Linked DNA regions of Homo sapiens: all the other regions are linked to region 1. Evidence: fine-mapped expression QTL. A gene starts in region 1. Each other region holds a variant in brackets. All regions are shown on one strand. Distances are between the middles of the regions. Region 1 holds the start of SYCP2L (synaptonemal complex protein 2 like). Region 2 overlaps SYCP2L (synaptonemal complex protein 2 like). Region 3 has its middle 110 kb from the start of TMEM170B. Region 4 overlaps MAK (male germ cell associated kinase). Region 5 has its middle 16 kb from the start of GCM2.

Region 1 (5,107 bases):
CCCGGGACGCGGAGGTTGCAATGAGCTAAGGTTGCACTATTGCACTCCAGCTGGGGAAGCAAGAGTGAAACTCCATCTCAAAAAAAAAAAAAAAAAAAAAGGCTGATCTCATAGAAGTAGAGAGAATAGTGGTCACTAGAAAAGAGGAAGTGAGATAGGCAGAGGTTAGTTAATGAACACAAAATTACAGCTAGCTGGAAGGAGTAAGTTCTAGAGTAAGATAGTACTGCAAGGTGACTATAATGTACAACTTATTGTATATTTTCAAATAGCTATACGAGTAGATTTTGAACATTCCCAACACAAAGAAATAAATATTTGAGGTGATGGATATGCATAATTACCCTGATTTGATCATTACACACTGTATACACATATGGAAATATCACACTACACCCAATTAACATGTGCAATTACTATGTGTCAATTAATATATGTGTCAATTAAAAATAAATGATAAAGGCAAAGAAAAAGAACCATTGTGTTAGTGGATAATTGAGTAGAGGCAAAAGTGAGATAGGAGGAACAGCTAAAGCTACAATTAAAATTGGGTGTTAGGCCAGGCGCAGTGGCTCACGCCTGTAATCCCAGCACTTTGGGAGGCCAAGGCGGGCATATCATGAGGTCAGGAGTTCGAGACCAGCCTGTCCAATATGGTGAAACCCGTCTCTACTAAAAAATACAAAAATTAGCTGGGCGCAGTGGCACGTGACTGTAGACCCAGCTACTCGTGAGGCTGAGGAAGGAGAATCACTCGAACCCAGGAGGTGGAGGTTGCAGTGAGCCGAGATCCAGCCACTGCGCTCCAGCCTGGGTGACAGAGTGAGACTCCGTATCAAAAAAAAAAGGGTGTTAATTCATAGCATAAACTGACATCAAATAAACACTATGCTACGTATCTATAATTTCTAAGTTTTGTCAACAAATTCTGAATTAGTGGGAAATACTTCCCATCCCAAAGAAAATATTCCCGGGAGCCTTTATGTTAAGCTTCTTTACCTCTTTTCTCTATAGACACGGCCCTATCTCTCCTTCAGTTCAATTCGTATGCAGAGATGCTCTGCTTATTTTTATTTCTACCTCCTTTCAACCTTCTCTGGCCTTGGTGGTCAGTACTTTGCAAATTCCAAAGAAATGCTTCCTGTTTCTGGAATTTCTGGAGCCACTCTAGTACACAGAAAGGTATCCCCCTTCTGTGAAGATCATGTGGCAGCTTTTGTGGGTAGGAACCTGACAGGAAAATCAGAAAGTGGGATGGTTTAGGCAGAAAAGATCGTTAGATTCTCTGAGATTCAGTCTCCTCATTTAAAAAACATGATGATAGCCGGGCGCTGTGGCTCACGCCTGTAATCCCAGCACTTTGGGAGGCCGAAGCGGGCAGATCATGAGGTCAAGAGACAGAGACCATCCTGGCCAACATGGTGAAACCCCGTCTCTACTAGAAATACAAAAATTACCCTGGCGTGGTGGCGCGCGCCTGTAGTCTCAGCTACTCGGGAGGCTGAGGTAGGAGAATCGCTTGAACCCGGGAGGCAGAGGTTGCAGTGAGCCAAGATCACGCCACTGCACTCCAGCCTGGGCGACAGAATGAGACTCCGTCTCAAAAAAAAAAAAAAAAAAAAAAAAAAAAAAAAAAAAAAAAAAAAAAAAGATGGTAACACCTATATGGAAGGATTGGAGTGAGGACTGACTGACAGAATGTCTGTAATGTTCTTAGCATAGTGCCTGGGCACATAAAAATGGCTCAGTGAATGGCAGCTTTCAATGTAACAGGGATGGAGAGGGTGAGGAGGTTATGCTTAAGTGCTCTGAATTTAAGCGTAGCTTGATGTTAGAAAGGTTTCTGTCCCAAATCTGTTTCCCCATGGCTGGGAAGATGGCGCCAGATGACAGATGGATTTTATGGAGAACAAGAGTGAGTTCCTGGATCTAGGCAAGCAGTTACCCCTGGCTATCAGAATCACCTGGCGTCCTCACTAACAAACTAACAAACTACCGGCCCACCGTAGACCAATTACATCAGAATTTCTACCACCAGGAACCCAGGCAGAAGAATGTTAGAAACACGCCCCAGGTGGTTTTTGTTTGTTGTTTTTGGCGTCCCTGGGTGGGCTCAAACTTCATGTGTTTTTTTTTATTATTTATTGATAAGTAATAATTGTAGCTTTATCTTAGGGGCTGTCCTTTGTCGTTCGGTTAAATGAAGTCCCAGCACTTGGGGTTGCTTAACACTTCTGCACTTTCTACGCAGCAAGGTGGAAAGAGGGCTGGAAAACCGGCTAGGAAAATACGCAAAGCAACTAGAAAAGAACTATCTCATTGCTTTCCGAACACGAATTCTCCGGTTCCCCTTTCCCTGAGCGCTATTTAGCTAGGGATCCGAGGTTTCTATTCTGCCTGGTCTCCCCGCAGGCTGCCAATACACTCCGAGCAAACCCAAGGAGGTGGCGGGGGACTATGCCCAGCACCCGGTCTCTGAGCGAACACCTCAAGGCGGCAGAACCTGAGCCCCAGGGACCCCGCGCCCTCGCGCGCCCTAGCACTGTGGACAGAAGGTCCGGGCCCTTCGGGGGTCACTCACCGCTTGCATAACGAGGCTTCTTCGTTCCTGAAGCGACGCGCCGCTCAGCTTTGTTGCGCTCGGTCGGCCCTCTCCTGCTTCCCCGCCCAAGAGCCCCGCCCGCTGGGGGCGCTGCCGAAAGAGCCCTGGTGGCGGACCGCTCTTCGAGTCGAGTCTTCTTCCGCAACTGTAATTGACGAATCCGCCCCCTGAAGTTTACTAGAGCTCTGTGTTTTGAGACTCAAGAAGCGCGTGCAAGTAACTAGCGCACACAGGCCAAACCACCTGGGCGCACGCACTCACCCTTTAAGAGAAAGCCAGCACTCAAAGGATGTGAACTACGTCATTTAAACGTTCCTTATTTGCGAAATTCCAAACAGATAGGCGTTCGCTTTGTGGTAGCTGTTCCAAGTTTTTGCCCCGCCTTAAAAAGCCAGAGGGGCGGCCAGGCGCGGTGGCTCACGCCTGTAATCCCAGCACTTTGGGTGGCCGAGGCTGGTGGATCACTTGAGGTCAGGAGTTCAAGACCAGTCTGGTCAACATGGTGAAACCTTGTCTCTACTAAAAATACAAAAAATTAGCCGGGCGCGGTGCACGTGCCTGTAATCCTAGCTGTTGGGGAGGCTGAGGCAGGAGAATCACTTGAACCCGGGAGGCGGAGGTTGCAGTGAGCGGAGATCTCGCCACTGCACTCCAGCCTGGGGGACAGAGTGAGACTCCGTCTCAAAAAAAAAACAGCCAGAGGAGCAGTTTTTGGTCCATTGATGTGTGCAGACAGAAGCCGAACCCTTTCCTATGGTAACCAGACTTGTACCCGATATTATTAATACATTCCTGATTTCACACACACACAAAGTGTGTTTGGTGGTTGTTTTTTAAGTACCGTGGTGGGGAGGAAGGGGAATTTTTTTTTTTAATCAAAGCAAATAGTTTTGTTTTTGTTTTTGTTTTTTTGTTTCTTTGTTTGCCTATTTCCTTTAACCTGACAAGTATGCGTACCAATGGCTAGGCTGATTCGGATAGGTGGCCAGTTGTGTGAACACGGTGGCAAAATTAAATTGGACTAGAGTTTTCCACAAAAAACAAAAAAAAGACCCCTCCAATCCAAACATCCTTTGTGTAAAAATCAACTTGTATTATAACTAGACCTGTGAGTATTTCAAGTCATAATATGTACGGAAGATATTTGTCTACACCAAAGCAAAACATAACAAAACCAGAACCCCTGTTAGCCCAGGACTTGCACACATTTCTAGTCCGTTCAAAACAATGTTTATGTCAAAGCCTGTCATATCAATTTCCTGGAAAGTATAATGTAAACATTCTTACATTAATTTACCTATTTTAATCTAAACCAAGGAAATTCAAACGCAAGTTTTTTTCCTTTTCAATGAATGGACTTTTGTAATATTAAACTAGTAATCAAGACAGGAACAGCTGTGAGTATAAGCTATTGTGAGTCAATACAAATATAATACCAGGGCAAGAAAGAAACAATGAATAATAAGAAGCAATAAACAAAATACTACAGTTTAAATGAATTTTAAGAGAATATTTAAAAATTAGAGTTTTCATAATATTAGATAGAAAACTTAATCATCTATTATTTTCAGGCTTTGGGGGAAAACATGTCCTTCCAAAGTCTATGGTGCAATGCATTCAAATCTTTAAGAGAAATTAAAAATAACAGAATAGGCAAAATACCTTTTATCTGGTTTTTTTTTTACTTTGATTAGCTTCTTTTACTAACATGTTTTGTCTTAATATAATTTATGGCAACTTGAAATGCATACTCTAATTCTTCTCAAACTAAATATAGTAGAGGCTCTATGACATTTCTTTGGATACCAGAATCCCTTTAGAAATTAATTGATTTGCCTTTTACATAAAAAAGTTTTATTTATTTATGTTTTTGACGGGTCAGGTCTCTCTAGGAACATTCCAAAAGCACAGAGACAAGAACTATTCTAGCACTGCAATAAGACCAAAAATTAATTTCTATGCATTTTCAGAGGTAACTTTAAATCACCATTTTAAAGTTATTTTTAGAACATTTGAAAGGATAAGTTATCTTAGACTACAACATTTAATGAAATACTATAATTAAAATGGATAATCAATAAATTTTCATTCAATTTTGGAAGACAAAACAACACGAAAAGCAACTGAATCAACAGGAGTTTCGGGGACCTTTGGCAGACAGTTAATAAGATGAAAAATCTGTGAATGAAACTCGTGGGTGAAGAGTAGACAGATCTCTTCGTTCCCAGCTAGACCTCAGTGGCGACCATTTGAGAGTGATTTTAATCAGAAACCTTGACTGACAGGACCTTTTAGGAGGGGAGAACTTCGGGAGAAAGGAGGCTGGGAATGAACAAATCACTTTCTTCTGCTAGGACCCTTCGGCTTTGACTGGGAGGAGGACCCCAGCTAGAAGATAAAGGAGGAAAAAATCGCGAGGAACTGCTCGAAGTTGGCCTTTCTTCCCAACAGAGTTCGCTGGTCCGCTGCCACTGGCAGGCTTCTCTGACCGACTGGGATACTTTT
Region 2 (5,107 bases), 34 kb before region 1:
CCCGCTAAGCGGAGGTTGCAATGAGCCGAGATCATGCCACTGCACTCCAGCCTGGGTGACAGAGCAAGCCTCCATCTCAAAAAAAAAAAAAAAAAAAAAAAGTGTGTGTTTCAGACAATAGCCTCCTTGCAGCCTCCTCCCAGGTCACCAGCCCTTTCCTGACAAATTGTAATCGGGCTTACAAGAGAAAATGGCTTAGACCAAATTCACAAAGAGGCCAAGAATACACCACATTAAGTACAAGGTAAGTCGGAAGAAGGAGAATAGAAAAGGCAGCAAAGTCCAGGAAAGAACAGGCAAAGCTAATGGCCACAAATTAATGAGACGGGAAACAAGGGGAAAAAAGAGGGAAACATACATGAGTCTAAATCTGTGAGGTCCAACTCATCAGAGTACTGAAAGCATGCCTAGTACTAACCGAGATGCTCTGTAAGCACAAAATACGCATCGGATTATGAAGACTCAGTACACAAAAGAAGAATGTAAAATGTATCATTAATAATTTTAAAATATTGATTACATGTTAAAATAATATTCTGGATATTATTATTCCAGGATATAATATTCTGGGTTAAACAAAATATATTAATAAAATTAATCTACTTAATCTACTTTTTTAATCTACTCAAATTAATCTACTTTTTTCTTTAATGTGACTACTAGAAAATTTTAAATTAAGTATCTGGCTCACCTCATATTTCTATAGGACAGTGCTGGTCTAGAGTAAGCCTCCATGATCTCCCCAAAATACTAATCTTGCCGGACATTTTACTCATCACTCCAGGGAAAGTCTATAAAACCATGCAACAAAAGTAATCTTAAATATCTTAAAAAGTAACTAGCTAATTGTTAGCCCGGCATGGTGGCGGGCGCCTGTAGTCCCAGCTACTCGGGATGTTGAGGCAGAAGAATGGCGTGAACCCGGGAGGAGGAGCTTGCAGTGAGCTGAGATCGCACCACTGCACTCCAGCCTGGACGACAGAGTGAGACTTCGTCTCAAAAAAAAAAAAAAAAAAGTAACTAGCTAACTGGGCCGTGGGATCAATGCAAACATATACAAGGGTCAGAAGAAATACCATGAGGGCTACATCAAGCTTCCAACATACTACACTGCCAACTCCATAACCAGAAGGGCTATGATACAGAACAAAAGTCTTACTTACGGAATTTACTAGACAATCATCAGTTTCTTTGGCTATAAGAATGGAAAGAGTAATACCTACTTCCTGTAGAAATTGTGAGGCACTTTGTAAATTAAAAACCATGAACCACAGAAACGTGATCTATTCATGAAGTTACAAAATATTAACTTTGGCAAGTTGACTCCTGAAAGCTGTTAACTGAGCACCCACATTCTTAAAGAAAATAATGAATTATTTTTACCTTTTTCCTTTTCCCCCACCTCTTACTTAGCTCTTTAGGAATGCAATTATGAAAAACAAACAAACAAACAAACAAAAAACATTAAAAAGTGGTCGGCCAGGCATGTTGGCTCACGCCTGTAATCCAGCACTTTGGGAGGCCGAGGCGGGCAGATCACGAGGTCAGGAGACCGAGACCATCCTGGCTAACACGGTGAAACCCCGTCTTTACTAAAAAATACAAAAAATTAGCCAGGTGTGGTGGCGGGCGCCTGTAGTCCCAGCTACTCGGGAGGCTGAGGCAGAAGAATGGCATGAACCCAGGAGGCGGAGCTTGCAGTGAGCCAAGATCGCGCCACTGCACTTCAGCCTGGGCGACAGAGCGAGACTCCATCTCAAAAAAAAAAAAAGGTGGTCAAAGGACATAAACAGACACTTCTCAAAAGAAGATATTCATGCAGCCAACAAACGTATGAAAAAAACCTCAACATCACTGATCATCAGAGAAATGCAAATCAAAACCACAATGAGATACCATCTCATGCCAGTCAGAATGGCTATTATTAAAAAGTCAAACAACAGATGCTGGCAAGGTTGCGGAGAAAAAGGAAGACTTTACACTGTTGGTGGGAGCGTAAATTAGTTCAACCATTGTGGAAGGCAGTGTGGTGATTCCTCAAAGACCTAGAGAAAGAAATACCATTTGACCCAGCAATCCCATTACTGGGTATATGCCTAAAGGAATATAAATCATTCTATTATAAAAATACATGCACACCTATGTTCATTGCAGCACTATTCACAATAGCAAAGACATGGAATCAATCTAAATTCCCATCAATGATAGACTGGATAAAGAAAATGTGGTACATACACACCTTGGAATACTATGCAGCCATAAAAAAAATGAGATCATGTCCTTTGCAGGGACATGGATGGAGCTTGAAGCCATCATCCACAGCAAACTAACACAGGAACAGAAAACCAAACACCGCATGTTCTCACTTATAAGTGGGAGCTGAATGATGAGAACACATGGACACATTGCGGGGAACACATACTGGGGCCTGGGTATGTTGGGGGAGAACATCAGGAAGAACAACTAATGGATGCTGGGCTTAACACTTAGGTGATGGGATGATCTGTGCAGCAAACCACTATGGCACATGTAACAAA[C/T]CTGTACATCCTGCACATGTACCTATGTAACAAACCTGTACATCCTGCACCTATGTAACAAACCTGTACATCCTGCACATGTACCCATGAACTTAAAAGTTGAAGAAAAAAAAAAAGGAACGCAATTATAACATTTACCTTCTTTCCATGAGGCACTCTCTGTCCTGCAGAGAGTATGTAACAAACCTGTACATCCCGCACATGTACCCATTAACTTAAAAGTTACCTATGTAACAAACCTGTAACAAACCTGTGTAGGTTTACCTATGTAACAAACCTGTACATCCTGCACATGTACCCATGAACTTAAAATAAAAGTTGAAGAAAATAAAAAAAGGAACGCAATTATAACATTTACCTTCTTCCCATGAGGCACTCTCTGTGCTGCAAGCTCATCTAACTATATGTTTGCTTAGAAATTCTAAGGAGGCCAGGCACGGTGTCTCACGCCTGTAATCTCAGCACTTTGGGAGGGCGAGGCTGTTGGATCACTTGAGGTCAGGAGTTCGAGACCAGCCTGGCCAACATGGCAAAACCCCATCTCTACTAAAATACAAAAATTAGCTGGGTATGGTGGTATAGGCCTGTAATCCCAGCTACTCAGGAGGCTGAGGCAGGAGAATCGTTTGAACACAGGAGGCAGAGGTTGCAGTGAGCCAAGATCACGCCACTGCACTCCAGCCTGGGTGACACAGTGAGAGTCTCAAAACCAAACCAAACCAAACCAAACAAAACAAAAAGAAATTCTAAGGAACAAACGTTGAACCAAACCAGGCACCCCCTGAGATTCTCCCCACCAGGAGATTGCCTTGAGACAACAGTCAATGTACAACCTAGTTCTGCCCACGATGGCACCAGCCAGACCACCTGATGGATAAGACATCAAAGCAAGTCATGAAGACCCCACACTTCCTCACTCTCTCCCTTACATGCCATTCATGCCAAGTCCCCTTTAAAATCCCCTGCTTTCTTGCTCACCCATTGCCTGCAAACAGACTTGGTGGTTTTGAGGGTGGGGGGTACCGTGGGAGTGAGACCGGCCCTTTGGATTGCATGGGAGCTGGGTGAGGCCTGTGACTGCTGACTTTTCCCCATTTCCCTGACAACCTGCATGACTCAGCAGAGACAGCCATAATCCTCCTAGGAACATAACTCCATTGACCTGGGAACCTCACCCATATCCCCACAGCAGCCACAGCAAGACCCACCCAAGGAGAGTCTGAGTTCAGACACTCCTAATCCTGCCCCCACCCAATGATCCTTCCCTACCTATCCTGGTAACTGAAGACTAAGGGAATATACTCTTGGGAGTTCTAGGGCCCCACCCACCGCCTGTTCCTCCCTACACTACCATAGCTGATGCTCTCTGGAAATCACCACCTACCGGCAGAAGGCCAACCAGCACAAAAACAGAGCATTAAACTACCAAAGTTAAGAACCATCACAGAGTCCATTTCACCCCACTGCCACCTCCATCAGAACAGGTGCTGGTATCCATGGCTGAGAGACCCATAGACAGTTCACATCACAGGACTCTGTACAGACAACCCCCAGTACCAGCCCGGAGCCTAGTAGACTTGCTGGGTGGCTAGATCCTGAAGAGAGATAATAGTCCCTACGGCTCGGCTCTCAGGAAGCCACAACCATAGGAAAAGAGGGAGAGTACTACATCAAGGGCACACCCCATGGGACAAAAGAATCTGAACAACAGCCTTCAGCCCCAGACCTTCCCTCTGACAGAGCCTACCCAAATGAGAAAGAACCAGAAAACCAACTCTAGTACTATGACAAAATAAGGTTCTTTAACACCCTCCAAAAATCATACTAGCTCACCAGCAATGGATCCAAACCAAGAAGAAATCCCTGATGTACCTGAAAAAGAATTCAGGAGGTTAGTTATTAAGCTAATCAGGGAGGCACCAGAGAAAGGTGAAGCCCAATGTAAGGAAATAAAAAAATCATACAAGAAGTGAAAGGAGAACTATTCAATGAAATAGATGGCATAAATAAAAAACAATCAAAATTTCAGGAAACAATGGACAACTTACAGAAATGCAAAATGCTCTGGAAAGTCTCAGCAATAGAATCGAACAAGTGGAAGAAAGAAAGTCAGCCGGGCATGGTAGCTCACGCCTGTAATCCCAGCACTTTGGGAGGCCAAGGTGGGCGGATCACGAGGTCAGGAGATTGAGACCATCCTGGCCAACATGGTGAAACCCGTCTCTACTAAAAATACAAAAATTAGCTGGGTATGGTGGCACGTGCCTGTAATCCCAGCTACTCGGGAGGCTGAGGCATGAGAATCACTTGAACCCAGGAGGCGGAGGTTGCAGTGAGCTGAGATCACACCATTGCACTCCAGCCTGGCAACAGAGCGAGACTCTGTCTCAAAAAAAGAAAAGAAAAAAAAAGTCAGAGCCCGAAGACAAGGTCTTCGAATTCACCCAATACAACAAAGACAAAGAAAAAAGAATAAGAAAATACGAACAAAGTCTCCAAGAAGTCTGGGATGATGTTAAACGACCAAATGTGAGAATAATTGGCACTCCCGAGAAAGAAGAGAAATACGA
Region 3 (5,107 bases), 760 kb before region 1:
GCAACAAAAAGAAATGAAGTATAAATACATGCTACAACATGAATGAACCTTAAAAACATGCCAAGTGATGTAGTCCCAGCTACTCGGGAGGCTGAGGCAGGAGAATTGCTTGAATCTGGGAGGTGGAGCTTGCAGTGAGCTGAGATCACACCACTACACTCCAGCCTGGGCAACAGAGCGAGACTCCATCTCAAAAAGAAAAAAAACAAAACAAAAAAACCCACAAACATATCAAGTGAAGGAAGCCAGTCACAAAGGACCCCATATTATATGACTTCATACTATGAAACATCCAGAACTGGCAAACTGCGGAGACAGAAAGCAGATTAGTGGTTGCCTAAGACTTAGGAGGCATTCTGAACGGCTATTTCTCCCAAGAAGATGCAGAAATAGCCAAATAGGCGTATCAGGGACTGACAGCTAAGGGGTGTGAAATTTCTTTTTAGGATAATGAGAATGTTCTAAAAATTGCTTCTGCTGATGGGTGCACAACTGTGTGGATATGGTAAAGGCCATTGATCTGTAAGCGTCACAGGGGTGAATTATCCGTTATATGAATTTTATTTCATCAAAGCTTTTAAAAAACTATGAGGTTAATTAAATACTCATAATTAGCTGGCAAATTTAATTGAAAGAGCATGGGACTTCACCCAGACTCTTTGCAATCTCGTCCCAACCTTGACCCTGCTCTAAATGACTAAGTAACTGAGGCAAGTGCCTTCGGTCTCCAGCCTCTGCGCCCTCATCTGTAAAACGAGGAGGGTGGACAGATGCTCCCTGAGGACCTTTCCACTTTTAATTCTTTCAGAAAACAGTGACCTCCAAAACAATTGTACTGATAAAATGGCCTGACTGTTCTTTGAACTCTCTGAAAGTTATCATATTCTTTTCCTTGGTTTTTAAAATTCCACCTTGGACTCTACTGGGTAGTTAAAATAATAAGTTAATTGTGTTTGATTTCAATGAAAGCAAAGTGTTTTAGATTAGTGTGTTTTGTTTATGTGCTGATAATGACCTTTTCTGCATGCTGAGGTGGGCAGCAGTAGTGAAATCTGCCCACCTGAAGCCAGCCTCAGTGGGGTCGGCTAGGGCCTGGGAAGCCCCTTCCTACTCAGTCTAAGCTGAGTACATTTACTTCCTCTGAGTCCTCCTCTCTTCTCCCATGCGAATTCTTATTTCCTGGTGTCCCTCATGTGTGAGTACGAGCCCGTTAGGCCCCCAGGCCAGCACCTCATAGACTTACAGATTAATTCTGGTTTGCAAGTGAATCATAGCATGGCCTAACATTTTTTTAGGTGTGAGTTTTGTTGTCCTCACCATTTTTTACTTGATGGTGGTGGAGGAAGGGGTACTCTTTCTGCCAAGCTGCTATATAAAGTATTGGTCAGACGTCTGCTTGACTGGCTAGAATTCAGCCAAGGCTGGCTTCAGAGAGCAGTGAACAGAGCCGGTTGCCTCCTAAGCCCTCATGTTGACAGTGACATAGCTGCGCTGATGTAGAGGCTACTTTCCCTCTTCCCCATTTTCACCCAGCCTCCTGACTCTGTTTCAAAGATTCCCCTTTTCCCTATCAAAATAAATATCTAAGCTTATAAAATACAGCTTCAGCCTAAATCCTGTCTTCTGCTCAAAGCCTTCACATTTGCCTGCACTAATATCCTCTTCCACTGAATCCCATCATAATAATGCTTATAAACCATAAAATGCTGGAAATGGGTGGCTAGTTGTCTAATGTCTTTCAAATCGGCATCTTCTATCAGTTCTCGAGGTCAAAACTAAGTCAAATGCTTCTCTTCTGTCCTCCTCAGTGCCTAGCACAGTTAGATAGACATTAAATAAATGTATATTAATTGGCTTTACAAAAAATGGTCCTAGCGGAGCACCTGCAAAGATGTGGTTCATGCCGGCATCCTGAGACAAGCTAAAATGCTGACAATTCTCAAACAGATTTCTGAAAATGGTAAGAGAAAACTTTCATAAATATTGTGGTCATTCCCTGCTAATCAGCCAGCTAGAACTTTTCTTGGGATATATTTAAGTATTTCTTAAATAAACAAATAATGAAGCTATGACTTTCTTTTTTTTGACACGGAATTTTGCTCTTATTGCCCAGGCCGGAATGCAATGGCACAGTCTCGCCTCACTGAAACCTCCACCTCCCAGGTTCAAGTGATTCTGCTGCCTCAGCCTCCCAAGTAGCTGGGATTATAGGCACCTGCCACCACACCCAACTAATTTTTGTATTTTTAGTAGAGATAGGGTTTCACCATGTTGGCCAGGCTGGTCTCGAACTCCTGACCTCAAGTGATCCACCCACCTCGGCCTCCCAAAGTGCTGGGATTACAGGCGTGAGCCACTGCGCCTGGCTGAAGTTGTCCCTTTCTTTCTCCAACTCTTCTATAGGGGAGGAGTGCATGTCTTTCCAATGCTTTCATTCTTTCCCTCCAGAGACAAGGAACCCATCCCTCTGGACTCCCCACCAGTGCTTTAGGTGAGATCTTCATCTACACTCTGAAATCCTCACCAGGACCTTCACCCCGAGCTGTCTTCTTGAACTTGCCTTTCGTTTCCTCTTCCTAAACCTCTTTGGAGGAAGAAATCCTCTTCCTCAGTCCTCTTCCATGGTAGCCTTTTCCCTCATGCTATCTCTCGAGTAAAAAAATGTTGAGAATCCACGTAGGCAAATTCTACATTACATGTGTATGATTAATGACCCTCTGAAAAATAACATTACCACAAAGTATTTAATTTTAATTTG[G/A]TCATGGCCAACTTTGGGAGTTTGGTTTGCTTTGGTTTGGTAGATCGCAGTGGGCTTCAAGAAAATCGGAGTGGGCAAATAATTAGTTTTCCTCTACCACCTTGTTAGCAGGTAATAAAAAAAAAAAAGCAAGTCCCTGACCAAAACAAGCTCAGAACAGTTCATCAAGCAGTCCTGTAAACTTGGAGTCCCAGCTCTCAGCTCTCTGTTTAGGTGCTCCAAGCATATCCTATAAAAGGTCTGCTCACCACAGACACAGCAACAATTCTCAGCAAGATGCAAAACATTGCAAAACATTGCCATCTGCATTATCTCATCTCTTAACCAATGGCTGTAAGACTAACTGGGGCTCAAGCTAAGAAAATATCCTCAAAGGGAACAGATCCATGGTTGAGTGCATTCTGAGGTCCTCTTCAGTCAAGAAGGAAGGAGGACCTCTAAGCTCTAATCTATGCATCTTGAATTCCTTTAATTTTGCCAGTGAAAACTAACTACCAAGACACGAATTTCATCAATAAAAACCTATTGTTTACACCTTATGTAAGAATCAGCAAAGTAATGGTTGTTGAACAAGGAGGGCTTGTAAAAGACGTGTCTGGCCTTTCTGATGTAATCCTGCCTGGTCACCCCATAAGAGGCGTTCTTGATTGGCACATGAAGTTCACCTAAGCTAAAGTAACACACATAGTATCACACTAGATACTATCAAGTATTTCTTTCTTTCTAGATGGAGTCTTGCTCTGTTGCTAGGCTGGAGTGCAGTGGCGCAATCTTGACTTATTACAATCTCTGCCTCCCAGGTTCAAGCAATTCCCCTGCCTCAGCCTCCTGAGTAGCTGGGACTACAGACGCACACCACCTCTCCATCTAATTTTTTGTATTTTAATAGAGATGGGATTTCACCATGTTGGCCAGGATGGTCTCAATCTCCTGACCTCGTGATCTGCCCACCTCAGCCTCCCAAAATGCTGGGATTACAGGCATGATCCACCGCGCCTGGCCACTGTCAAATATTTCTAAGTAAGCTACAGGCATGATAATCCTATAAACTAACACTTTATACCTAAAACTGCTTCAGAAAAATATGTTGCATCATTTTGTAAAGTAGAAAACTACCCCACTCTCATATTTATCCTTTACATGATTTTTTAAATTTATCATTTTTATTTATTTATTTCAGAGATGGGGTCTTGCTATGTTGCCCAGGCTGGAATGCAGTGATTATTCACAGGTGCAGTCCCACTACTCATCAGCACAGTAGTTTTAACTGCTTGTATCTGATCTGAACTGGCTCACCCCTCTTTAGGCAACCTGGTGGCCCCTGCTTCTGGGAGGTCATCATAGTGATGTTGAACTTAGTGCAGATGCTTAACCAGCATAGCGTCCTACAGCCCAGAACTCCTGGGCTCAAGTGATCCTTGCGCCTCAGCCTCCTGAGTAGCTGGGACTAGAAGCTAAATGATTTTTTATAATCTGGTTTTCTTAAAGTTAGGCTCACATGTGATGGAATGCTGTCACTGTACCAGGCAGGTGTGTGAGCACTGGGAGAGTTCCCATGTAGGGTCCTCTGAACAAGTAATGAAGATGGAAGTTTGATGGCTGTGTAGTGACATAGTGATATCGCTGCTGCTGGTGAAAGGGCCTTTTAAGCTACGTTGGGCAGAGAGGGACTGTGACTCTCATCCTGAACTCTCTACTTCACATGTGGGCCCCACTCTCTTCCCACAAGGGTTGTGGTTGGCCAGTTTTTTCCATACCTCTCCAGTTACACACTGAAAAGCCTGGAGGTCTTAAGCTTTTGATGTTCAATGACTACTTTGAGAATGTGGTGAAAATCTCTTCAATAAAATTGCATGTACACACCTGCAAAAAGCAAATTTTAAGTATCATTTCAGTGAGTTATGGACCCCACCACCACCAGTTTCATCCTTAAATCTCCTAGGAATCCATCAAGGTGGTCAGGGAACCTCTGACATTATGACGTCAAGAAAGTCAGTTAACCTCCCTGAGCCGCTGAGTTTCATCTTCCATAAAATTTGCTGCTCTCATAGTGCTACTGCCTACTCCATCACAGTACTCTGGGGAGGGAGTAAAATATCAATTATGGAAGTACATTGGAAAGTGTAGATTACTGTGTGAATGCACGGTGACTCTGTTTAATGAAAGTGCAACCCACCGGGAGGACCAGCTTCTGTCTTCTGGGCCTTTCCCTGGACACAAAAGATGTTACCTGGCATCTGAGTTTGCTCATGTCCTTCTGTGTTTTATCAAAACCAGATAAGTGACACTGATTCCCAGGACTGTCCTCTACCGTGATGGGAAAATCAATATACCTGTGGTGTCTTCTCC
Region 4 (5,107 bases), 58 kb after region 1:
GTGGTGCGCACCTGTAATCCCAGCTACTGGGGGTCGGGGTGGGCACCTGTAATCCCAGCTACTGGGGGAGTGATGGTGACAGGGGTGAGGACTCAGGGACAAAAATCACTTGAACCTGGGAGGCGGAGGTTACAGTGAGCCAAGATTGTGCCACTGCACTCCAACCAGAGTCTCACTCTGTCTCAAAAAAAGAAAAAAATTCTTTTTTGTCTTTTCAGCAGTGTTAATAGCATCTCTACCAGAAGTAGATTCCATCTCAATAAAACAGTTTCTTTGTTCATCCATAAGAAACACTTCCTCATTCATTCAAGTTTGATTATGAGGTTACAACATTTCAGTCACATCTTCAGGCTCTACTTCCCTTTTTATTTATTAAAAAATTTTTTTTTCTTTAGAGACAGAGTCTTACTCTGTCACCCAGGATGGAGTTTAGTGGTGTGATCATAGCTCACTGTAACCTTGAACTCCTGGGCTCAAGCAATCCTCGTGCCTCAGCCTCCCAAGTAGCTGGGACTACAAGCGTGCCATCAAGTCCAGCTAGTTTTTTAGTTTTTGTAAAGAAGGGCATGATATGGTGCCCAGGCTGGTCTTGAACTCCTGGCCTCTACAATCCTCCTGCCTTGGCCTCTCAAATCACTGGGATTACAGGCATCAGCCACCACGCCCGGCTATGTTTCTTATTTCTTTGTATGAACCTAGTGTGACACTAAATCCTAATTAGTATTTACATTTTTCTTAGTTTGATGTAAAATAAAGTAGCATGTTATTTAAATAGAATATGAAATTTTAAAATAATGCTATTCCTTTCATATGAAACAAAAGTTTGCTTTATACTTACCTTACCCAATTGGGGTACTTATATTCCACAGAAAATTTACAAGTAGTACAGTTTTAAACAATATGCCAAATTAAATATGATACAAAAATTGATTCAAAGAATGGATATCATATAGACATCAATTTTCCAAGGTCTGATTTGGAATAATGTAGATTATATTTAGTAAAAAAGGAATCATACAAGCCATTATGCCATTATTGAACATAAATAGCACAGTACCATGTAAATGAGGCATTTACCAAGTGAGTATTACCAGTGAGTTATATGTGAACTTCATTTTACATAGACAAATGACTTACTGACAAATATTTAACACAATAGTATTTATATTATTTATAATTTTCCCTTTGCTCTAAGTTGCCAGTACAATTTTTGAAGAGACTTGTTAATGAAAATTCATGATATCCTTGTTTTCTTTCTTTAGGGTGTTTATAAGAATGGAAGTGTTGTTTCCTTGCCCGATTCCTTCATGCTATATCTCATGAACCTCTGTAATCTTGGGGGAGAGACTATATTTAATGATGACAAACCTGTCACCAGTGTAGCAACAACAGTGTGAGGACAAAAGCAAATAAAAATTAAGAAGCGTTCAAATTTATATTCAACAAGGAAGTCATTTCAATCAACAACTTCTGCTGCATTATTTTTCCAAGATGAACCGATACACAACCATGAGACAGTTGGGGGACGGCACGTATGGGAGTGTGCTTATGGGCAAGAGTAATGAATCCGGGGAGCTGGTGGCCATCAAAAGGTACTGTGTGTGACACTGCCAACTTCACCTTTGAAAACTCTGCTCTTTATTTTCCTGTCCTCGCTTAAGAATATATACCAGCACAGGCCAGCGCGGTGGCTCATGCCTGTAATCCCAGCACTTTGGGAGGCCGAGGCGGGCGGATCATGAGGTTAGGAGTTTGAGACCAGCCTGGCCAACATGGTGAAACCCTGTCTCTACTAAAAATACAAAACTTAGCCAGGCATGGTGGCACGCGCCTGTAATCCCAGCTACTCAGGAGGCCGAGGCAGGAGAATTGCTTGAACCCAGGAGGTGGAAGTTGCAGTGAGCTGAGATCGCGCCACCGCACTCCAGCCTGGGTGATACAGTGAGACTCCGTCTAAAAATATATATATATACGTGCACACGCACACACACACACACACACACACACACACACACGTGCACACAGGCTG[T/C]GTGCGGTGGCTCATGCCTGCAATCCCAGCACTTTGGGTTGAGGTCAGGAGTTTGAGACCAGCTTGGCCAACATGGTGAAACCCTGTCTCTACTAAAAATACAAAAATTAGCCAGGCATGGTGGTGCACACATGTAATCCCAGCTACTCAGGAGGCTGAGGCACGAGAATCGCTTCAACCTGGGAGGCAGAGGTTGCAGTGAGCTGAGATTGCACCACTGCACTCCAGCCTGGGTGACAGAAGGAGACTCCATCTCAAAAAAAAAAAGAATATATACGAGCACAGAAAGAGGTCTAGTTTAGATCAAATAGCATCTGGCTCATGTGGAATGTCATTCTTGGAAAAGAACATTGCCAAAGAGGAATTCTGCTGTTTTTCTTCTATATTACTTTAACTGTCTGGCTTGTCCAGCTACACTGATAAACCAAAAAATATGAGTGCCTCCTTTTTTATATGTATAATACATTTGGACCAAAACTACAGGTGATCTTTGGAATGTTCTTCCAAATTTATTTGTTGGTTTTCGTTTTTGTTTGTGTTTTTTGAGATGGGGGTCTCACTCTGTTGCCCAGGCTGGCGTGCAGTGGTGTGATCATGGCTCACTGCAGTCCTGACTTCCCAGGCTCAAGCAAGCTACCCACCTTGGCCTCCCAAAGTGCTGGAATTACAGGTGTGAGCCACCATTCCTGACCTGTTTTTCACATTTAAAGTTGAGTGCAGAGTAGGGCTTATTATTTCTTTAAAACAAGGTCTCAAAATCAGATGGTATTCATAATGTCAAATTGAGTTCTGAATGATATATGTTATATTCCTGAACTTATGAAATAGAATTGTTGTTAATTTGTTTGTTTTTAATCCACTGTGTTTATCTATTGCTGCATAACAAAATACCTGCAAAGCTTAGTGATTTAAAATAAGAAGAAACATTTATTAATTCACATAGTTTCTGTGGGTCAGGAATTTAGAAGTAGCTTAGCTGGGTAGTTCTGGCTTGGGTTCTCTGATGGCAGTCAGATAATTGGCCGAAGTTTCAGTCATCCGAAGGCTTGACTGGGACTGCAGGATCTACTTCCAAGGTGGCTCACTCTTGGTTTGCTAGGGCTGCTGTAACAAAGTATCACAGACTGGTTGGCTTAAACAACAGAGATTTATTTCCTCACAGTTCTGGAGGCAAGAAGTGCAACATCAAGGTATCTGCTGGTTGTTTCTTCTGAGGCCTCTCTCCTTGGCTTGTAGACAGCCATATCCTCTCTAGGTCTTTATATGATCTTCTCGTTGTGCATGTCTGTGTCCACATTTCCCCCCTCTTTTTTTTCAAGACAGGGTTCCATTCTGTCGCCCAGGCTGAGGTACGGTGGTACAAACATAGCTCACTATAGCCTCAGCCTCCTGGGCTTGAACCATCCTCCTGCCTCAGCCTCCAGAGTAGTTGGGACTGTAGGCGTGTACCACAACATGTGGCTAATTTTTAAAAAATTTTTTTGGAGTGATGGGGTCTTGCCATGTTGCCCAGGCTCCTCTTATAAGGACACCAGTCATATCAGATTTGGGCCTACCTGAAAGACCTCACTTAAACTTAATTACCTTTTTAAAGACCCTATCTTCAGATACTGTCACACCGTGAAAGTCTGGGGGCTAGGACTTCAATATAGGAGTTTTGGGGGACACAGTTGAACCCATCACACTCACTCACAGGGTTGGCATATTTGTACTGGCTGTTGGCAAGAGGCACCTCAATTCCCTTTTACAGAGGCTCCTTCCTTGGGCCTTTCCAGAGGGTTGTTTGAATAGCCTCGGGACATGGCAGTTGACTTCCACCAGAACCAGTCCCGTACTCATGGGATACGCATCTCCACATTACCACATCAACCAAATTATGACAAACTAAAATTTAAATACTTTAGCAAATGTTTTAAAATATTATGATCTAAACCATTACATGTACAAGGAAATAACTTCATAAAATATTTTTAAATAGTCATTATCATCAGATAAGTAAATATATAATATACAATAATGGAAATGAAAAATAAATTGAATAGGCTTAATAAAATTCAGTGCTCATTTGTGATTTGATGAACTAAAAAAAACAAACATTGATTTCTTAAAAAACTTATGATAAAGCCTCTTGGCTGAATGCAGTGGCTCACACCTATAATCCCAGCACTTTGGGAGGGCAAGGCAGGAGGATCGCTTGATCCCAGGAGTTTGAGACCAGCTTGGCAACATGGTGAAACCCCACCTCTACAGAAAATACAAAAATTAATTGGGCATCGTGGTGCTCACCTATAGTCCCAGCCACTCGGGAGGCTGAGGTGGGAGGATTGCTTGAGCCCAGGAGGTCGAGGCTGCAGTGAGCCAAGATAGTGCCACCACTACTGTACTTCAGCTTAGGTGACCTAGTGAGACCCTATCTAAAAACAAAAACAAAAGTAAAACAAAACAAAAACTTAGCAAATAGGAATAAAAAGAAACTTCCCTAACCTACATAATTCATATTAATGTGAATTAGTACGAAAACCTATATAATTCATATTAATGTGAAATATCAGAAGTAATATCAGTACAAATTGTTTGAAAACCCCAAATGCCTGCTAGCAGTCCTGCTGATTAGGATTGCATTGGGGATACTTACTACTGCTATAAGACAGAAACCTAAGAAATGAGTGTTATTAGACAAAATGAGCTGAAATAGCCCACATTTGTAGATTAAATGATTATGTAAATTCACACAAAGAAATACTTTATTATATACAAATACATCCATATACAAAAATATTTTTAAAGGCCTGGAAAGATACACCCAAAATCCATGATAGCCATGGGTTCTGGGGAGGAGGGTAGGCGAATCAGAAGGGGTGTTGGGTCTTGGGTACAGTCCCACAGATGGTTATTACTGTCTGGTTTTATATGACAAAATGTCCATCATTTTTTTCTGAGTGGCAAAAATATGGTATTTGTTTTATCCTTCAAAAATATGGTATTTGTTTTGTTTTGTTTTGAGATGGATTCTTGCTCTGTTGCCAGGCTGGAGTGCAGTGGCGCGATCTCAGCTCACCACAACCTCTGCCTCCTGGG
Region 5 (5,107 bases), 21 kb after region 1:
TAAATAAATAAAATTTAAAATTCCATCCCTCAGTCACACGAGCTACATTTCAAGTGCGTAGTCGCCATATATAGCTAGTGGCTACTTCATTGGATGGTGCAGAAAGAGGACATGTCCATCGTCACAGGGAGTTCTATTGGACAGTGTTGGTATAGAGGAGGACAGGGGAACCTTGCATGAAGCCATGAAGAGTTCCCAATTTGGAGTTAAGAGGAGAAGGATCTGATAGAGGAGATGAGAATTAGTGTCCAGATAAGTAGAAAACCAGGACAGAGAAGGGGGTCACAGAAGCCGGAGTCGAACTCTTTCAAAAGAGAGAAGGAGGTCAACATTGCAGAATGCGGCTGAGATGTTAACATGAGCGTCCATTGGGTGTAGCAACAGGGAACGTGTTGGTGACCGTGAAGACACCTGTTTCCATGGGGTGACGGGGCTCTGTGAGGCAGATTGGAATGGGCTGAGGGCCAGTGGGAAACAAGGAGCTGGAGACAACATACGTACTCTCTGGATGATGTAACATTGATTTTCAAGTGTGAATAAAAGTCAACGTGCTTGATTAAAAACTGTAGTGAGAGCTTCAAATTTCTTCCAGTGAAATTTGCCTTGGTGATAGGGTTGCCACAGTTAGCAAACAAAAATACAGGCCATCCAGTTAAATTTGAATTTTGGATAAACAATGAGTAATTTTTTAATATAAGCACAGTCATTCATCACTTAGCAATGGGAATATATTCTAAGAAATGTGTCCTTAGGCGACTTCATCCTTGTGGAGAAACCAGATTGTATTTGCACAAACCTAGATGATAGAGCCCACTATACACTTAGGCTAATATGGTAGAACCTATGGCTCCTAGGCCACAAACCTGGACATCATAGTACTGTACTGAATATTGTAGGCAATTATAATGTAATAAGTATTTGTGTATCTAAACATATCTAAACATAGAAAAGGTACAGTGAGAATATAGTATAAAAGATAAAAAATGGGCCGGGTGCAGTGGCTCATGCCTGTAATCCCAGCAATTTGGGAGGTCGAGGTGGGTGGATCACCTGAGGTCAGGAGTTTGAGACCAGCCTGACCAATATGATGAAACCCTGTCTCTTCTAAAAATACAAAAATTAGCCAGGCCTGGTGGCATGCACCTGTAATCCCAGCTACTCAGAAGGCTAAGACAGGAGAATAGCTTGAACCTGGGAGGCAGAGGTTGCGGTGAGCCAAGATCATGCTGTTGCACTCCAGCCTGGGCAACAAGAGTGAAACTCCGGCTCAAAAAAAAAAAAAACAAGATAAAAAATGGTACACCTGTGTGGGACACTTACCATGAACAGAGCTTGCAGGACTGGAAGTTGCTCTGATTGAGTCAGTGAGTGGGTCATGAATGAATGTGAAGGCCTAGGACCTTACTGTATACTAGCATAGACTTTATAAATACTGCATACTTAGGATACACTAAATTTATTAAAAATTTCTTCCTTTAATAATAAATTAACCTTAGCTTACTATAACATTTTTACTTTACAAAACTTTTTAATTTAAAAAATATTTATATATATATATATATATATATATAAATTGTACTTTAAGTTCAGGGATACATATGCAGAATGTACAGCCTTGTTACATAGGTATACATGTGCCATGGTGGTTTGCTGCACCTATCAACAATTCATCTAGGTTTTAAGCCTCACATGCATTAGGTATTTGTCCTAATGCCCTCCCTCCCCTTGCCCCCCACCTCCAGACAGCCCCCAGTGTGTGTTGTTCCCCTCCCTCCTCCCTGTGTCCATGTGTTCTCATTGTTCAACTCCCACTTGTGAGTGAGAACATGCAGTGTTTGGTTTTCTGCTCCTGCGTTAGTTTGCTGAGGATGATGGCTTCCAGCTTCATCCATGTTCCTGCAAAGGACATGATCTCATTCTTTTTTATGGCTGCATAGTATTCCGTGGTGTATATGTGCCACATTTTCTTTATCCAGTCTATCATTGATGGGCGTTTGGGTTGGTTCCAAGTCTTTGTTATTGTGAATAGTGCTGCAATAAACATGTGTGTATGTGTCTTTATAGTAGAATAAATTTTTAAAAACTTTTTGACTCTTGCAATAACAGCTTAAAACACACATTGTACAGTTGTACAAAAATATTTTCTTATTTATATTTCTTTCCTTCTATAAGTTTTTTTCTATTCTTAATTTTTTATTTTATTTTTTGCTTTTTAAACTTTTTTGTTGTTAAGAACTAAGACACAAACACGCACAGTAGCCTAGGCCTACATGGGGTCAGAATCATCAATATCACTGTCTTCCACCTCCACATCTTGTCTCTCTGGAAGGTCTGCAGGAGCAATAACATGCACAGAGCTGTCATCTCCTATGGTACTAATGCCTTCTTCTGGAATCCCTCCCAGAGGACCCACCTGAGGCTATTTTACAGCTAACTTTTATTTATAAATAGACGGAGCACACTGTAAAATCATGATAAAAAGTATAGTAAATACATAAACCAGTAACACAGTTGTTTATTATCATTATCAAGTATTACATATTATACATAACTGTATATGCTAGACTTTTATACGACTGCAATGCAGTAGGTTGATTTACACCAGCATCACCATAAACACACAAGGAATGCATTTCGCTATGACGTTATGACAGCTATGATGTCACTAGGCAATAGGAATTTTTCAGCTCTATTATAATCTTATGGGACCGCCAACATATATGCAGTTCATAGTTGACTGAAGTGTCATTATGTAGTGCCTGAGTTTGTATCCCAAATACTGCGTGGACATAA[CA/A]AAAATTATTCATCATTTTTCTTAAATTCAAAGTTAGGTGTCCTGTATTTTATCTGGTACTCTACTTAATGTGAATATTATCATTTAATTTCATTCTTGTCCAAAATGTACTAAATGACATTTGAATAAACCAAAAAACTAAAAGTGCATTTATATAAAAACAATTCAGGTACTGAACACTTATGAAAAAATAATATTTATTTTAACTGTGTACTCTAGTGGGAGAAAAAATATTTTATTATCCTTTAAAGTATACACATCAAAGATAAACAGCACAAGATTTTAAAAAGCAAAAAAATCACCCTTTGACGTTTTCATTTACAAACGACACTATCAGCTGATTGTCAACCTATTTACTCATATTTCCATTCTACTTGGGTGAGATAAAGCAAGAGTGTCCTTTGAATGTTACATCAGTAATGTATTTTCCATTCATCAGCCCATTAGAGTTGGGTTTTCTGCTCCTCTCTCAGACGGCTGAGCTACCCACATAGTGTTATGGTTTGAATGATAAATTTGAATGACAAGCATGAGGCATGTCAGGGTTGTGGGCATGGGGGAGAAGAGGAAGAAGGAGAAGCCCTCTCCAACTGCAGCGACCTGTGGCTCTTCAGATGCAGCAGAAGGGCACTACTGGGTAAAAATGCCAGCCACCTGCCTTTGGAGGCCTCCGCCTGCGGAAAATAAACATTCTCTCTTCCAATGCTTCTTAAGTGTGAGGTTTTAAAAACCCCAGTTGAAAAAGCCTTCTGCTTCAAGAGGGCCTATGTATTAGGCTGCAGTACTGATCCGGGTTTCCATAAACCACCTGAATTCCTTCTCTTAACCACTTTAAGCACTATGCTTTCAAAGATCATTTCTGGCTATTGCCAAGATGTAGCAATAAAACCCCTTAATTCAAACGTGCCCAGAATTGTGACACCAGAATGGATGTCATCTATCCCAGTCTTCTGTTATCAGGACTGAGTGCCCTGTGGACAGATGCCCATCCATTTCTGCTGTGGGTGCTACTGTCCTCTGCAAGGATGCCACTGTCCTCATGGAACGCTAAAAAGAGCTTTTAGAATAAAGGTACAACTTTATGATCTGGTTTTGTGATTTTTAAAAAAATTAAGCTTACCTCAAAAAATATATCTGCAAAGATTATTTGAAAAAAAAAACTCATGACATTATCAACAGAATATATGCATTCACCTGTTAGATGCTAAATGCTCACTATGAGAATTACAGAGAAGCATAAAATGAGGTCGCTGCTTTCAAGAAATTTGTAGTAGGAAAAAACAAATAGGCCCGGCACAGTGATGCATATCCGTAGTCCTAGCTACTCAGGAGGCTGAGGCAGGAGGATGGCTTGAGGCTGCAGTGTGGTCGTGAGTATGCACTGTGATCCTGCCTGTGAATAGTCACTGCCCTCCAGCCTGGGAGACACAGCGGTACCCAGCCTCTAAAAAATATTTCAAAAGAAATTTGTAGTAAACAAGAGAAATAAGACACGCCAAATAATAGGTTAAATAGCAGGGCATGGCAGTACATTATTGCATGCATTGTATTTTATACATAGGAAAATATAATGATATTTCAAGAATTTTTACTTGCTAATTTTATGATTGTTGGAAACATTAAAATTGTGAAGGCTGAACTTGTCTCTGCAGCTGGAAGAGCTGGGCAGAGGAAAATTCTCCAAGGAAAGAATGAAATGGGGAAGGCAAAACAGCCCAGCTGCAGAGGCAGAGGGGAAGATGAGGAACACTCTTCATGAATATTTTCCTCATCTTGAAGCTTTTCTTATTAAAATATTTTCCTTATTAGTATTTTCTTCTCCAGATGTTCTTCAAAAACTTTCCATGTACACATTCCTCAAATTACTTCATAAGTAATTTGTTCATAAAATCTTCATGAAATTTGTTCACAAAATTTTATGAAACATCCTTATGAATATTCAACAACTATCTTTATGAATATATTCTTCTTGATTATGAATATTTTAATACATTTGTAAGAATAATATACTTGAATGAATAGAGCACTGTTTCTATTTGTAAAGAATCTGTTTTTGAAGCAATAGATGTTGAATATGTTCATGCACATAATAAACATATCAATGATCCCACATTCAAACAAAGTTTCTGAACACCTACAATGTTCTAAAACCTGACAGTAAAGGGATGGACAACGTAGACATGGTTCTTGCCCTCATGGGGCTTACATTCTTTGTGAGGAATATGTTTTTTTGTTTTGTTTTTTGTTTTTGAGACAGAGTTTCGCTCTGTCCCCCAGGCTGGAGTGCAGTGGCATGATCTCAGCTCACTGCAA

The links. PIP is the estimated chance that this variant, and not a neighbour inherited with it, causes the effect.
Region 2: its variant is fine-mapped to the expression of SYCP2L in subcutaneous fat (GTEx, PIP 0.96).
Region 3: its variant is fine-mapped to the expression of SYCP2L in prefrontal cortex (CommonMind, PIP 0.95).
Region 4: its variant is fine-mapped to the expression of SYCP2L in breast (GTEx, PIP above 0.99).
Region 5: its variant is fine-mapped to the expression of SYCP2L in tibial nerve (GTEx, PIP above 0.99).

Annotation. Positions count from the first base shown.
Region 1 is chr6:10,884,610-10,889,716 of GRCh38, reverse strand. SYCP2L (synaptonemal complex protein 2 like) reads right to left here and starts at 2,665. Exons shown (of 30, transcript NM_001040274.3): 1 at 2,582-2,665. The coding sequence starts at 2,590. RefSeq lists an enhancer at 2,730-3,498.
Region 2 is chr6:10,918,375-10,923,481 of GRCh38, reverse strand. All of the region lies in intron 14 of SYCP2L (synaptonemal complex protein 2 like), which reads right to left. Among named protein-coding and RNA genes, the nearest start is that of SYCP2L, 34 kb to the right of the region's middle. The variant C/T (reference allele first, on the strand shown) is at 2,538.
Region 3 is chr6:11,643,173-11,648,279 of GRCh38, reverse strand. No RefSeq gene overlaps it. Among named protein-coding and RNA genes, the nearest start is that of TMEM170B, 110 kb to the right of the region's middle. The variant G/A (reference allele first, on the strand shown) is at 2,759.
Region 4 is chr6:10,827,033-10,832,139 of GRCh38, reverse strand. It overlaps MAK (male germ cell associated kinase), which reads left to right. Exons shown (of 15, transcript NM_001242957.3): 2 at 1,263-1,592. The coding sequence starts at 1,492. Among named protein-coding and RNA genes, the nearest start is that of MAK, 9.0 kb to the left of the region's middle. The variant T/C (reference allele first, on the strand shown) is at 2,030.
Region 5 is chr6:10,863,698-10,868,804 of GRCh38, reverse strand. No RefSeq gene overlaps it. Among named protein-coding and RNA genes, the nearest start is that of GCM2, 16 kb to the left of the region's middle. The variant CA/A (reference allele first, on the strand shown) is at 2,794.